Regions from separate parts of the Homo sapiens genome. Here region 1 is linked to region 2. The links come from fine-mapping of genetic effects on gene expression. Tissue or cell type: thyroid. Region 2 holds a variant in brackets; the other region holds the start of a gene. All regions are shown on one strand. Distances are between the middles of the regions.

Region 1 (8,087 bases), 53 kb before region 2:
GACTAACGGGAAAAAATGACACCATATATTTCAGTCCCTCACATGTGTGTAACTTGACCACCTGCCCAATTCAGTGTCCTTAAAATAAGAGCAAACCAAATGCTTGGAAGGAGTGAAATTATTTCAACTATTGAGACTCGGCAAGAATTTCTTCTGAGAATCCTCGTAAAGAGGAAACAGATACAGCACAAGGTAATGACACTTGAGAACATTCTTAGAACAGACATACATTTTCCATGAAGTTTATCCCTAATAGAGACTCTTAAAATAGGGCAGGGGACCAGCCAGGCGCGGTGGCTTATGCCTATAATACCAGCACTTCGGGAGGCCAAGGCAGGTGGATCAGTTGAGGCCAGGGGTTGGAGACCAGCCTGGCCAACATGGCAAAATCCTGTCTGTACTAACAATACAAAAATTAGCTGAGCACGGTGGTGCATGCCTGTAATCCCAGTTACTCGGGAGGCTGAGGCAGGAGAATCGCTTGAACCCAGGAGGCGGAGGTTGCAGTGAGCCGGGATAGCACCACTGCACTCCAGCCTGGGTGACAAAAGTGAAACTTCATCTAAAAAAAAAAAAATAGGGCAGGGGAGGCCACAGAGAACCAAGAATGCCTGGCCCCGCCTCAAAGAAATCACCCCCCAAACAGGGTCCATGACACATGCTTAGGACACTTCTCCTGAACTGTCACCTTACATGCTGTTGGTAGGAGAGAAAATTGGTACCATGCATTTGGGGGATGGTAGCTACTAAAATCTAGTTATAATAGCCCTAAGTTGGAAACAACATAAATGTCCACCATGGCCAGGTGCGGTGGCTCATGCCTGTAATCCCAGCACTTTGGGAGGCCGAGGTGGATGGATCACGAGGCCAGGAGTTCAAGACCAGCCTGACCAACATGGTGAAACCCTGTCTCTACTAAAAATACAAAAAGTAGCAGGGTGTCGTGGTGTGTGCCTGTAATCCCAGCTACTCGGGAGGCTGAGACAGGAGAATGGCTTGAACCTGGGAGGCAGAGGCTGCAGTGAGCTGAGATTGAGCTATTGCACTCCAGCCTGGGCGACAGAGCAAGACTCTGTCTCAAAAATAAATAAATAAATAAATAAATAAAAATAAATAAAATGTCCACCACTAGGTGAATGGATAAACAAACTGTGGTCTATTCATACAATGAAATAGTACTTAGCAAGAAAAATGAACATTTATGTTTACATAAAAACATAAATAAATCTCAGAGATATTGTGTTGAGCAAAAGAAGCTAGACAAAAAGAACTTACGTGTTGTATGACTGATACAAGCTTCTAGAACAGGCAAAACTCCAGCCTGGCCAACATGGTGAAACCCTATCTCCACCAAAAAATTGAAAAATTAGGCCAGGCGCAGTGGCTCACGCCTGCAATCCCACAACTTTGGGAGGCCGAGGTGGGTGGATCACCTGAGGTCAGGAGTTCGAGACCAGCCAGGCCAACATGGTGAAACCCCGTCTCTACTAAACAAAAATTACCTGGGCGTGGTGGCGGGCGCCTGTAATCCCAACAACTCGTGAGGCTGAAGCAGGAGAATCACTTGAACCCAGGAGGCAGAGGTTGCAGTGAGCTGAGATTGTGCCACTGCACTCCAACCTGGGCAACAACAGTGAAACTCCACCTCAAGAAAAAAAAAAAAAAAATTAGCCAGGCGTGCTGGCACACACCTGTGGTTCCTGTTACTCGGGAGGCTGAGACGGGAGAATCACTTGAATCCAAGAGGTGGAGGTTGCAGTGAGCTGGGATCATGCCCCTGCACTCCAGCCTGGGCAACAGAGCGAGACCCTGTCTCAATCAATCAATACACAACAGCGAAAACTAATATACTGTGACAGGAATTAAAACCAAGGCCAGGTGTGGTGGCTCATGCCTGTAATCTCAGATCTTTGGGAGGCCGAGGTGGGAGGACTGCCTGAGGACAAGAGTTTTCAGACCAGCTTGGGCAGCATGGTGAGACCTTGTTCCTATTTTTTAAAAAAAGAGAAGAAATTAAAACTATGGTGAGATTCCACCATACACCTACCAGAATACCTAAATAATGATAAATCTGACAATACTAAGTGCTGGTGGGAATGCAAGGCAACTGGAACTCTCATAAAAATGGTAGAGAATAGAGAACTACATACACATAAAACATTAAAAAACGTGTAAATCTGAGTAAGTCCCATGTACAGTACCAATGTCAATTACCTGGCTTCTATGCTAACTGTAGCTATGCAAGATGTTAACACTGAGGGATACTGGGTGATCTCCCTATACATCTCTTTCTTTTAAAAAAAAAAAAAAAAAAAAAGATAGGCCAAGAGCAGTGGCTGACGTCGTAATCCCAGCACTTTGGGAGGCCGAGACGGGCAGATCACCTTAAGTCAGAAGTTTAAGACCAGCCTGGCCAACATGGTGAAACCCGTCTCTACTAAAAATACAAAAAAATTAGCTGGGCGTGGTGGCGCACACCTGTAATCCCAAATAACTCGGGAGGCTGAGAAAGAAGAATCACTTGAACCCGGGAGGCGGAGGTCCACTGCGCTCCAGCATGGGTGACAGACCGAGGCTCTGTCTCAAAAACAAATAGAGATGAGGTCTTGCTATGTTGTCCAGGCTAGTCTAGAAATCCAGGGCTAAAGCCATCTTCCCCCTTCAGCCTCTCTAGTAGCTGAGACTACAGGTTAGAACCACCAACCCAGACTTCTCCCTGTACATTTCAATAATTATTTCAAAACTTAAAAATCTGAAAGAAAGCAAACTGCTTGATAGTGGCAGAAAGCAAGCATGAGGGGATTCTGGGGCTTGCTGGGGGTGTTGGCTACCTGGGTGTATGTTCAGTTTGTGAAAATTCACGGAGCGCCTAAGCTATGCACCCTCTTCTGAATGTGTTACCCAGTACTCCAATAAAAGGCTTTTGGCCCTGGAGAGGTGGCTCACGCCTGTAATCCCAGCACTTTGGGAGGCCAAGGCGGGCGGAGCACCTGAGGTCGGGAGTTCGAGACCAGCCTGACCAACATGGAGAAACCCCGTCTCTACTATAAGTACAAAATTAGCCGGGCGTGGTGGCGCATGCCTGCAACCCCAGCTACTCAGGAGGCTGAGGCGGAAAATCGCTTGAACCCGGGAGGCGGGGGTTGCGGTGAGCCCAGATCGCGCCACTGCACTCCAGCCTGGTCAACATGAGCTAAATTACGTCTCAAAAAAAAAATAAATAAATAAAACAGCCGAGCTGGAGGTGTGTGCCTGTAATCCCAGCTACTCAGGAGGCTGAGGCGGGAGGCTCGCTTGAGCCCGGAAGGTGGAGGCTGCAGTGAGCCGAGATCGCGTCACTGCACTCCAGCCTGGGCGACACAGCACGACTCTTTTAAAAACAGGTTTTGTTGAGTGCCGCATTGATCCGGTCCCTCCCACGCCCCCTGTGCTTCACAAAAACGTCAGGTCCGAGCTCCGGCGCGGCGGTCTCCTCCTCCGCGGGTCCGGGCCGGAACTCGGCAGAAGGACGAGCAGCTCCTTGGGGCCGGCAGTCTCCCATCGCACTGAGATTGACACGGCAATGTTTCGGATACTCTGGGTAAAAATTAAATGTCTTACGAAAAGTCCTGTCACCCGTTTCTTGATTACTTTTTACGGCGGCTTCCAGAACCTTTCGTCAGCGCGAGCTCCATGCCCGGAGGCCGCCGTCACCTGCTCTCCGGGAAGGCCCTGGGCAGGCAGGCAGCGCGCTGAAGGAGTCCGGGAGCAGATCGTGCGAGAGAGCGCGCGGGCGCCAGGCGCGGGGGCGGGGCCAGACGTGCGTGCTGGCGGGAGCGCGCGCGCCATGGCCTGAGGCGTCTGGGAACATGCGCGGCGAGGGGACGGGCGGGGCGAGTCCGGGAAGGGGCGGGGCCGCAGCCGCGCCCCTGACTTCCACCGCCTGCGGGTGAGACCGCCTACCATCGCCCGGCGCGCTTGAGCATGCAAGGGGAGGTGGGATTCCCCTGGCCCGCCCCCAAGCCACGCCTCTGGCCTATGAGAACTGAGCTGTCCCGCAGGGACCGAGAGAGGAGCCTCCGCTTTCGCAGGGGCTGGGCGTTCCGGGCGCACTGCGCCCTCTGTTGATCCTCTTAGGAGCTGCGTGGGGACCGTCGGGCCTGCCGTTTCGCACCTGGCCGAAAGGGGTCGCTGTGCCGGGCCAGATCCTATGTAAATTTAGCTGGATAATCTCAGCAAGAGAAAATTGGCTGCAGTGCAAAGAAGCCAGGCTCAAAAGGCAGGGTTATCCCATTTCTATGACATGTCACAGGTAAGACTATGGCAACATAGATCAGTGGCTCCTAGGGGCTGGGTTGACCACCAAGAGGCATGGGGGGCATTGGAAATGAAGGAACTAATTCATATCTTTTTTATTTTGCTTTGGTTTTATTTATTATTTATCTATTTATTTATTTTTGAGACAGTTTCGCTCTTGTTGCCCAGGCTGGAGTGCAATGGCGCGATCTCGGCCCACCGCAACCTCCGCCGCCTGGGTTCAAGCGATTCTCGTGTCTTAGCCTCCCGAGTAGCTGGGATTACAGGCATGCGCCACCACGCCCGGTTAATTTTGTATTTTTAGTAGAGACAAGGTTTCTCCATGTTGGTCAGGCTGCTGTCGAACTCCCGACTTCAGGTGATCCGCCCACCTTGGCCTCCCAAAGTGCTGGAATTACAGGCGTGAGCCACCGTACCCGGCCTGTTTTATTTTTTCTTTAAATCATATCTTGATCATAGTGGTGGGTAGGAAACTATGCATTTGCGTGTAGGAAACACGCAAAACCAAAAATCAGAAAGTGTGACTTCTACTAAATGTAACTACTTTCATTTTTAAAAATTATTTATTTATTTATTTATTTTTTAAGATGGAGTGTCGCCCTGTCACCCAGGCTGGAGTGCAGTGGCACAATCTCAGCTCACTGCAACCTCCACCTCCCCGGTGCAAGTGATTCTCCTGCCTCAGCCTCACCAGTAGCTGGGACCACAGTTACTGGCATTCGCCACCATGCCAGGCTAATTTTTGTATTTTTAGTAGAGACGGGGTTCCACCATGTTGGCCAGGCTGGTCTCAAACTCCTGACCTCAAGTGATCCGCCCACCTCGGCCTCTCAAACTGCTGGGATTACAGGCGTGAACCACTACTGTGCCCAGCCTAATTTTTGTATTTTAGTAGAGTTGGGGTTTCACCATGTTGGCCAGGCTGGTCTTGAACTCCTGACCTCATGTGATCCACCCGCCTCGGCCTCCCAAAGTGCTGGGATTACAGGTGTGAGCCACCACGCCCAGCCAACTACTTTAATTTTTTAAAAAAGATATTAAAACCAGAAAGCAGGTGGTTGCTGGAGACTGGGAGGAGGGGGAAGGAGTGACTGCTTCATGGAGTCATTTTGGAGTGACGGACATGTTTTGGAACCAGGTAGGCTGTGTAACACTGTGAATGTATGAAGTGCCATTGAATTGTTCACTGTAAAATTCCAAGAAAACCTGCAGACTCCTGCCTTTCTGTGAAGAGTTCGTGTCCACTGTCATCGTGGGGTGAGCTGTGATTCTGCCTTCTGCTCTGGCCTCAGTCCCCAAGCACCCAGCACTGTGAGCATGAGGCATAGGAGGGGACCACGGTGTAAATCGATCTCTGGTCACGGAAGAGTGAAGGATTTAAAGGACCATGGCCTAGCCTGGGCAACATGGCAAAACCCTGCCTCTACAATAAAATATAAAAAAGTCAGCCGGGCCCAGGCCAGGCACGGTGGCTCACACCTGTAATCCCAGGACTTTGGGAGGCCAAGGTGGGTGGATCACCTGAGGTCAGGAGTTCAAGACCAGCCTGGCCAACATGGTGAAACCCCATCTCTACTAACAATACAAAAATTAGCTGGGCATGATGGTGGGTGCCTGTAGTCCCAGCTACTCAGGAGGTTGAGGCAGGAGAATCGCTTGAACCTGTGAGGCAGAGGTTCCAGTGAGCCAAGATCGTGCCATTGCATTCCAGCCTGGGTGACACAGCAAGACTCCATCTCAAAAAAAAAAAAAAAAAAAAAAATTAGCCAGGCTTTGTGGTACAGGCCTGTAGTCCTAGCTACTAGGGAGGCTGAGGTGGGAGGATCACTTGAGACCAGGAGGTCAAGGATGCAGTGAACTGTGATCAAAACACTGCACTGCAGCCTGGGCGACAGAGCAGGACCCCATCTCACACCAAAAAATAATAATAAAAATTTAAAAATAGCCAGGCATGGTGGCTCATCCCTTTAATCCCAGAACTTTGGGAGGCCGAGGTAGGCGGATCACTTGAGGTCAGGAGTTCAAGACCAGCCTGGTCAACATGGTGAAACCCTGTCTCTACTAAAAATACAAAAATTAGCTGGGCATGGTGGTGCACTCCCGTAGTCCCAGCTACTTGAGAGGCTGAGGCAAGAAGATTGCTTGAACCCAGGAGATAGAGGATGCAGTGAGCCGAGATCACGCCACTGCACTCCAGACTGGGAGACAGAGACTCTGTCTCGAAATAAAGGACCATGCCAATCCCCAATAGGATGCAATGTCCTTGTGCCGTTATTATCGCCAATTTTTAGAAGAAGAAATTGAGGCTCAGAGGAAGCGGTTTGTCAGAGGGGGAACTGACCTCTGGCAGACCAATTCCAGGATCTTAGCACTTAAACACCACACCACGGGGGGGCAGGGGGGTGCTGGGGGGGTGCGGTTGGAGGGGGTGGGGTTCCCCTCCTAGGGGAGGAGAGGATGAGGCTCAGAGAAGTTACAGAAGCCCAGGAAGTGGCAAAACCTAGGGATTAACCAAAGCGTAGGGACCAAGCAGGGCCCCTGAACACCTGTGTCCTTTCCCAGGTTTTCGGAATCGGTGGCTTGGTTGTCCTTCTCTCCTTGCCGCCCACCAAAGAGCCACTCCCCAGCCTCAACACCATCTTCCATCTTTACAGAATACCCAGGGTCATCCCAGGGAAACTGAGGACCCCAATTTTTCATCGCAACACCACACACAAGCTGAGGGAGTAACTGTGCTCACACACACCCAGTCCGCTTTGGGGGGCCCAAGGAGCCCCCCTACTCTAGATGGGGTAGCCCTGCCCTGGTCTTCAGGCCAGCCCACACCCAGGAGACTCAGAATCTAAAAAACAAAGTACAAACTTTATTTTGTTTCTTTACAAAGGCACGGTGGCCTCTTGGTTTTTTTCTCCCCACTTTCTTAACAAAATATAATAGCTTCTCCTTGAACACGAAGACCTCAAAATTGTAAAAAAAAAAAAAAAAGAAAGAAAAAAAAGAAAAACAAAACAAAAACAGAAAGCAAACCAAAAAGAAATAAAAAACCAACAACAAACAAAACAAAAAGAGAGAGACAGACATTTTTGGGGTGGAAGATGAGACCTGGAGGCAGAGGTGGGGGCTGGGGGGTGGGAGAGTGGCGAATTCTAGTGCCGAGATGGGGAAGGGGGAGGGGGGCACAGCAGCAGCAAACCCCAACCAAGAAGCAACGGAGACCTCCGGGCCCCCAGAATGCCCCAGCCTAGTCTTACCCCCAACCATGTAAGTGCTTAAAGGAGAAAGAAGAAAACCCAAAAAGAGGAAGGAAAGGGGATTGAAGGCTGACAATCCCAGGCTGGCTCTGGGCAGGGAAGAAATAACCTGGGGTTTTGTTTAATTTTCCCTGTTCTTAAAAAACATATTTAAAGGAAAAAATGCTTTTTGGCAGAGAGAGGCCAGGCATCTCCGTGTCAGCTTCCTCCAGCCCCCGGGGCCGAGGCCCCGCCCTGGGGTGCCGATGCTCCCACACGCTCTGCGACACCCCAGCCCCGGGACCTCGGGTTGAGTGGCTTCGTTCAAAGGTCGATTTACAGTATTGAAAAAGAGGTCATAAAAGAGACCCAAATGACATCGTAATTTTGTAAAAATTTCTCACTCATTCGCCCATGTCTCTCCCTGTGGCTGCCCCGGCTCCCTCCAGCCCCCAGAAGGGAGAGGAGGGCTGGGGGGGTAGTCAGGGAAGCTCCCCGTCCCCCGACGGCTCCTCCCGGCTCTGGTCCATGGCGTCACTGTCTGAGGCCTCGGAGTCGGAG
Region 2 (8,100 bases):
GGTGGCAGGCACCTGTAGTCCAGCTACTCCGGAGGCTGAGGCAGGAGAATCGCTTGAACGTGGGAGGTGGAGGTTGCAGTGAACCGAGATCACACCATTGCACTCCAGCCTGGGCGACAGAGTGAGACTCCATCTCAAAAAAAAAAAAAAAAGAAGTATCAGAACCAAGAGAGGATGGCAGCAGGGGATGGCAAGGCGCTCAGTGGTGAAAGCGTCAGGACTTGAACCCCACCGCCACTACTTTGCAGCTTTGCATTTTTGCATGAACCACGCGGCTTCTCCAAGCCTCCCTCTCTTCATCCACAAAACAGGCCTGATTGTGACAATCTACTCAATAGGGTGATTTTGAAGATTAAACATAGTAATACAAAACAAGTTATTCTGTTTGCCAAAGACATTACAGATGAGGTCATGTAGCCAATACCATGCCAGGAAACCAAAACTCACCTCAAGAAATCTGTTGGGTGGGACGGGCATGGTGGCTTATTCCTGTAATCCCATCACTTTGGGAGGCCGAGGCAGGTGGATCACGAGGTCAGGAGTTTGAGACCAGCCTGGCCAACATGGCGAAACCCCCGTCTCTACTAAAAATACAAAAAAATTAGCCAGCCGGGCGTGGTGGCATGCGCCTGTAATCCCACCTACTCGGGAGGTTGAGGCAGAAGAACTGCTTTAACCCAGGAGGCAGGGGTTGCCATGACCCAAGATTGCGCTAATGTACTCCAGCCTGGATGACAGAGTGAGACTCCGTCTTGGGGGGGAAAAAAGAAAAGAAATCTGTTGGGTAGCCAGGGCATGGTGGCTCATGCCTGTAATCCCAGCACTTTGGGAGGCCAAGGCGGGAGGATCACTTGGGGCCAGGAGTTTGAGACCAGCCTGGGAAACACAGTGAGACCCTGTCTTTACTAAATATAAATGTAAAAAAAAATAGCTGAGCATGGTGGTGTGCACCTATAATCCTAGCTACTTGGGAAGCTGAGGTGGGAGGCTTGCTATAACCCCAAAGGCTGAGGCTGCAATGAGCTGAGATCACACCACTGCACTCCAGCCTGGGCGACAGAGTGAGACCCTATCTCAGGAGAAACAAAGAAAAAGAAATCTGTCTTGTCCTAAGGCTGACAGGGGCAAAACCAGGATCTGAATCACGTGATTCCCGACAGGGCTTTGGCCAGCGCTGTGTGAATACTCACACAGATGGGGGATGCTGGGCAGCTTCAGCTCAGAAGGAACACTGAGTGAGGGACAGATGGACTGGTCCGGCAGGGGACCCGCCCATTCAGCAGATGTCCCTGGGCACAGCTCACATGTCAGTTCTCTGCAAAGCGGACAGGCGGCTGAGAAGTGTCAGAGCCTGCTAATGAGGGCTGGGCAAGAGAGAAGCAGAAGCGAACTTGCCTGGGTCGGGGGAAGGGGATGGTGCAAAGCAACCCTGAGGCCGAAAGCCTGTGTAGCTAGAACCAACGGGGGTGGGGGCGGGCGCTCAGGGCTCAGGGCTCAGGAAAATGAGGTGGCTCTCCTAGTTTTACCAGGGAAAGGAAAACAAGGCAGGAATTTCCGGCAGGGAAACCTGGCTACTCGGTGGGACTCTTAAAGATGACACTTTTTCCTCTATCCTCGAGTGCAGCCTCAAGACGGGCCCTGCTGGTCCATCCTGGGGCGACAGGTGTAGCCAGATTCCCCTCCAATCAAGGAGTCCAACTGGAAAGCTCCAGTGGGTTACCCAAGGGCAGATACCAAGCAAGTCCCTAAAAATGGAGGCCAGTGTGCCCTGGAGGGCAAGTATAAATATGGGGAACTCTGAGCCGGGCGCAGGAGCTCACACCTGTAATCCCAGCACTTTGGGAGGCAGAGGGCCGATCATCTGAGGAGTTCGAGACCAGCCTGGGCAACGTGGTGAAATCGTCTCAACTAAAAATACAAAATTAGTTTGGTGTGGTGGTGGGCGCTTGTGATCCCAGCTTCTCGGGAGGCTAGGGTGGAAGAATCACTTGAACCCGGGAGGCAGAGGTTGCAGTGAGCTGAGATTGTGCCATTGCATTCCAGACTGGGCAAACAAAGAGTGAAATTCCGTCACGAAAAAAATAATAATAAAAAATATGTGGGGAACTCTTAAGTAGAGATGGGGGTTCCCCTCACTTTTGCCTCTTCCACGGAGTTAAAGTGTCAAGGAAAGGGGTTCCCAGGATAAAACTTTCAGGAGTATTCGGTTTTAGGGGCTACAGGCAGAGGCGCAGGACCCTAGAGGGATTTTTTTTTTAGCTGGAGTCTCACTCTGTCGCCAAGGCTGGAGTGCAGTGGTGCGATCTCAGCTCACTGCAAGTTCTGCCTCCCGGGTTCATGCCATTCTCCTGCCTCAGCCTCCCGAGTAGCTGGGGCTACAGGCGCCCGCCACCACGTTCAGCTAATTTTTTTGTATTTTTAGTAGAGACAGGGTTTCACCGTGGTCTCGATCTCCTGACCTCGTGATCCACCCGCCTCGGCCTCCCAAAGTGCTGGGATTACAGGCGCGAGCCACCGCACCCGGCTGCTAAAGGGATTTAGGAGGTGGGTGGAACCACAAAGGAAAAGCTAGCTGCTGGTGGGGTCTCAGCTTGGAAGACGTCAGGGTGTGAACTGTCACTTAAGGAACAGTTTAGGATAGAGCAAGGGATGAGGAAGCCCACCTGGAGTTCGGCAGGAGTGGGTGACCTCAGGTAGCCCCCTCTTTTGAGAAACCTGGCCGGGAAGGTTGGAGACATGGCTGTGGCTTGAGGCTAGTGTTTTTTTCTTTTTGGGGACGGAGTTTCACTCTTGTTGCCCAGGCTGGAGTGCAATAGCACGGTCTCGGCTCACTGCAACTTCTACCTACCAGGTTCAAGGGATTCTCCTGCCTCAGCCTCCCAAGTAGCTGGAATTACAGGCGCCTGCCATCATGCCCAGCAAATTTTTGTATTTTTAGTAGAGAAGGGGTTTCACCATGTTGGCCAGGCTGGTCATTACAGGCCTGAGCCACCTCGCCGGGCAAGACTAGTGTTTGATTGTTCGTTTTGAGATGGAATCTTGCTCTGTCAGCTCACTGCAACATCTGCCTTCCAAGTTCAAGCGATTCTCTTGCTTCAGCCTCCAGAGTAGCTGGGACTACAGCCATGTGCCATCACGCCCCGCTAATAGAGATAGGGTCTTACCATGTTGCCCATGCTGGTCTTGAACTCCTGGGCTTAGGAGATCCTCCCACCTCGGCCTCCCAAAGTGCTGAAATTACAAGTGTGAGCCACTGTGCCCGTCCTGGAGTCAAAGGCTTTGGACTTGAATGCCATCTCTGCTACTTTAGAGCTGTGTGTGCATGTACTTTTAACTTCTCTCTGTCTCCCTCTCAAAATGGGCCCGATAGTAGGTTCCATTTTGGTCTGGTCCCACCAGGACCTCTGACTCGCTGGCGACCTCAGGTAGGGGCTCATGTAATAGCCCAGCTCCTCAAACACGGAGGATGGGTCCCACTCCTGACCCAGCCTCATTTTACAGCAGAGCGTGAAGGCCGAGACTAGAGGCTGCACCAGGCTGGGGAAGGGGCAAATTCTAGATTACTCACCAGGCCCGTACCCATGAGAGCCCTCAGGCCTGCAGCACCGTGGATCCAGAGGCAGAGACAGAGCTTTGTAGAAGGGTGAAAACACTTCCTCCCCGCTTCCGGCTGCAGAAAAGCCACTTTCTCGCGGCAGAGCCCAGACTGGCAACCCCCAGGCCTTCTGCACCTCACCTGGGCAGCAGGCACGCTGACTGTGTGTGTTTCAATCTCTCCAGGCTCAGAGGGATGGCGGGGGATGCTGCCTGCGCGGTTGCTAGTGGCGGACACAGCTGCCTGGCTGACACTGCCTTTGTCATGCTCCAGAGCACTCAGCCAGCCCGGGGCCCCTCACCCACTCCCTCTCTCCTCCTGCCACCAGAAGCAGCCTCTTCCCGGCTCCCACCCTTTCTCCCCGAAGCCACTTGTACCTGCTCCAGAGCCTGGAGAGGTGACAAGTGCTTCCCAGACAACAAAAGCATCTCCCAGGAGAACAGATGTTACGCACACTCAGCTACACCCTTGCTCTGTGCCCTGATTTTAAGCTGTGTTTGGGCAGCTCTTTGGGATGAAACTGAGGCAAGGGGTAAAGGGCCTGTCTTGGTCAAGGTCATCCCACCTTGGGACTCCTGGGTGTGTTTCAGACATCCGTCCCCTTGGGTTCCAATGCTGGTCTGGCCACTTACAAGCTGTGTGACCTTGGGCAAGTTATTTGACCTCCCAGAGCCTAATTTCCCCCCAGATAACGACAGATAGGTAGTGAACCCACCTCTTGCTAAAAAATGTGAGCCATTATTGTCATTACTCCATCCTTTTAATTCCTCTTTCTCTCCACTCCAGCCACATCCGCCTCAATGCCTGCTGCCCCTGGACCTTAGGCTTGGGATGTGAAATCTTTCTGGAATGTTCCTTCGTTAGTTCCTCGCATGGCTTGTTCCCTCGCTTCCCTCTTTTGAGTCTTGACTCAAGTCACCTCCCCAGGGAGGCCCTGTCCTGCCCTGTCCTCCCTGGGCGCTTATGTGACATCCGAGGCGGTTTCCCAATTCGACTACCTGTGGCTCTTGCGCCTGGAACGTAAGCCCCACGAGGACAGGACTGTTTCACTTCTGACTCCCGTGTCCGCAGCGATGGAAAGAATGACTGTGGGCGCCTACCCCCGGAGGATGCTGTCGGCGCCCAGTCTGGCGGCTCCCGGCGCGCGCCCGCGAGGTCACGTCCGGGGCGCGCCGGCCGGAAGGAGGCCCCGCGTGGGGGTAGGGGCGGGGCGTCCGAGCCAGGCCACGCCCCCCGGACTCGCGCCCC[C/G]CTCTCAGCGGCAGAGCCAGCCAGCCTGGGGCCGCCTCGCACTTCCGCTCACCAGCCGGCTTGTTCATATTCATGAGGCGGGCGAGAGGCGGGGCCCGGGTCACCGGCGGCGCCCCGCCCCTGGCTTGGAATCCCGCCCCGGCGGAGGCTTGGGCCCCAGTGGGGCGCCCCCAGCTTCCGCCTCGGGGAGGGAGTTTCCACTTGGTCACGACTCAAAAATGTGTCGCTCGCGCTTCTCCGCCCCCTCGTTCCTGCCCTGGGGGGGTCTCCTCCCTCGGAAGGCAGGAGGGGAGGGGCCAAGGGAGGGACGGCTCCTCCTCCCCGGGGCAGGTCCTTAGGGATCCCGGGCGGACTCCTCTCCCTCCAAGTTAGCGCCTTCAACAATCTTTCCCCTACCCCGTCAGACAGTCTTCTGTCGCCCAGAGCTGGAGTGCAATGGCGCGATCTCGGCTCACTGCAAGCTCCGCCTCTCAGGTTCAAGCGATTCTCCTCCTTCAGCCTCCCGAGTAGCTGGGATTGCAGGTGCGCGCCAACACGCCTGGCTAATTTTTGTATTTTTAGTAGAGATGTGGTTTCACCATGGTGGCCAGGCTGGTTTTGAACTCCTGACTTCGTGATCTGCCCGCCTCGGCCTCCCAAAGTGCTGGGATTACAGGCGTCAGACGGCGCACCCAGCCCTGCAATAATCTTAAATTTTTTTTTTTTTTTGAGTTGGAATCTCGCTCTGTTGCCCAGGCTGGAGTGCAATGGCGTGATCTGGGCTCATCGCAACCTCTGCCTCCCGGGTTCAAGCGATTCGCCCACCTCAGCCTCCCAAAGTGCTGGGATTACAGGCCTGAGCCACTGTGACCGGCCTTTTTTTTTTTTTTTTTTTTTTTGAGACTGGGTCTCACTCCGTCCCCCAGGCTGGAGTTCAGTGGCACAATCGGCTCACTGCAGCCTCCACCTCCTGGGTTCAAGCAATCTTCCCGCCTCAGCTGTCCAAGTAGCTGTGACTACAGTCATGCACCACCACAACTAGCTAATTTTTTAATTTTTTGTAGAGATGGGGCAGGGTCTTAGTATGTTGCCCAGGCTGTTCTCGAACTCCTGGGCTCAAGCAATCCTCCTGCCTCGGCCTCCCAAAGTGCTGGAACTACAGGCGTGAGCTACTGTGCCCAACCAAAACTACCTTTTTTACTTTTTATTTATTTATTTTGCGATGGCGTCTCGCTCTGTCACCCAGGCTGGAGTGCAGTGGTGCAATCTCAGCTCACTGCAACCTCTGCCTCCTGGTTTCAAGCGATTCTCGTGCCTCAGCCTCCTGAGTAGCTGGGATTACAGGCGTGTGCCACCATGTCCAGCTAATTTTTGTATTTTCAGTAGACACCGTGTCTCACTATGTTGACCAGGCTGGTCTTGAACTCCTGACCCCAAGAGATCCACCTGCCTTGGCCTCCCAAAGTGCTGTGATTACAGGGATGAGCCACCAGGCCCAGCCCAAAACTACCTCTTTTAAACTTCCCAAGGATCTGTGCAATATTATGATACCGAGAAGTTCAGAGCAGTTGAGTGACTCACCCACGTCACACAGCCGGCCTCAGGTTTTCCAGAAAGGTTGGTCCTGCTGGGTTGGGGTGGCAGGTGCATGTCTCCCACGGCCTTTCAGGAAATGAGGCTTACCTAAGGCACTCCTGTCTTGCTGGATGTGGCTGAAGGTTGGGTCTGTGCGCCACACTGATGGGAGGGAGAAGCTACATGCTAGGAGAAACGAAACCATGAAGGCAGGACAGGCTGCGTAATGTAAAATGAAAATTCGCGGGCCATGTTCTAAAATGATTAAGAATTTCAAGACGGTGACAGCAGAACATTCAGCCACACTCAGGCCCTTCTAAGGGCCAGCCCTGTGCAACTGCATAGCTCACATGGCTTCCATGAAGCAAGCCTCTGATGAAGGAGCCCAAGGGTGACAGCGCTGCCACCAGGGACATCCCCACCTCTGATAGAACTCTCCCCCCTAGCCCAGGCGCCCCATCCCGTCCCCGCCCTGGAATGCAGGACCCAGTCTCTAGACTTCCAAAAGCTGAGCATTTTAGGCTTTGCAGGACAGGTTCTTGGGGAGTCAGGTGGGTCACCCTGGGAGTGTCTCACATCTGCAAGTCCCAGCCAGGCCCCTGGGGCTGCACCTCCTGGGCATTTTCAGCTCTGGGCCCTGCGGGCAGGTGGCGCTGTGTTGTACATGCCAGGCCCAGCATGGCTTCGGTTCTGACTTGAAGCCCTCCTTTCTCCCTGGGGCAGGGAATGAGAAGCAGCCAGGGCCGCTTCCTAGAATAAACACCCCACCCGCAGACAGCCCCAGCTCTGTAGGCTCAGCCAGCCAGCGCCAATGGAGAGAGAGGCTCGCCAGGCCACCGGCTCAGGGTTGATAAGTCATCCTGATCTCACTCCCTCCATCACTCCTGCCTTGTGACTGGGCTCTGCCCGCTGTGGGCTGCTTCATTCATAATAGCTACCATTTGCGGGCTCTTTCTCCCAGCCACGTGCTGCTGGAAGCCCTTTCTGTGCACTTCCCACTGAGCCTCACAGAGGCCAGTGGTAATAGGTACCCTGAGGACTGCGATTTCATAGATGGGGAAACCGAGGCTCAGAGAGGTTAGAGGGCTTGGCCAAGGTCAAGGGCCAGAGGTCTGGATCTGCCACCATTCATCCATTCTGATTCCTGTCATCTCTCCTACATCTACAATGTAGGTCTCAAGGGTTACTTCTTTTGTTTTTTTGTTTTTTTTGGTTTTTTAGAGATAGGGTCTAAGGGCCAGGCGCGGTGCCTCATGCCTGTAATCCCAGCACTTTGGGAGGCTGAGGTGGGTGGATCACCTGAGGTCGGGAGTTAGAGACCAGCATGGCCAACATGGCAAAACCCCATCCGTATTAAAAATACAAAAATTAGGCGGATGTGGTGGCACACGCCTGTAATCCCAGCTACTCAGGAGGCTGAGGGAGGAGAATAGCTTCAACCTGGGAGACAGAGGTTGTACCACTGCACTCCAGCCTGGGTGACAAGCAAGACTCCGTCTCAGAAAAAAAAAAGAGACAGGGTCTCAGCTGCATATGGTGGCTCACGCCTGTTATGAGGCTAAGACAGGAGGATTGCTTGATCCCAGAAGTTCGAAACTAGCTTGGGTAACATAGTGAGACCCCTGTCTCTACAGAAAATATGAAAATTAGCTGAGTGTGGTGGCACATGCCTGTAGTCCCAGCTCCTTGGGAGGCTGAGGTAG

The links. PIP is the estimated chance that this variant, and not a neighbour inherited with it, causes the effect.
Region 1: LINC01569 starts here. The variant in region 2 is fine-mapped to the expression of LINC01569 in thyroid (GTEx, PIP above 0.99).

Annotation. Positions count from the first base shown.
Region 1 is chr16:4,250,047-4,258,133 of GRCh38, forward strand. It overlaps LINC01569 (long intergenic non-protein coding RNA 1569), which reads right to left and starts at 3,743. Exons shown (of 3, transcript NR_039999.1): 1 at 3,601-3,743; 2 at 1,276-1,988. TFAP4 (transcription factor AP-4) reads right to left here. Exons shown (of 7, transcript NM_003223.3): 7 at 7,140-8,087. The coding sequence ends at 8,009. RefSeq lists enhancers at 2,625-3,247, 3,312-3,521 and a silencer at 3,752-4,011.
Region 2 is chr16:4,302,864-4,310,963 of GRCh38, forward strand. No RefSeq gene overlaps it. Among named protein-coding and RNA genes, the nearest start is that of GLIS2, 9.2 kb to the right of the region's middle. RefSeq lists an enhancer at 2,448-2,960. The variant C/G (reference allele first, on the strand shown) is at 4,844.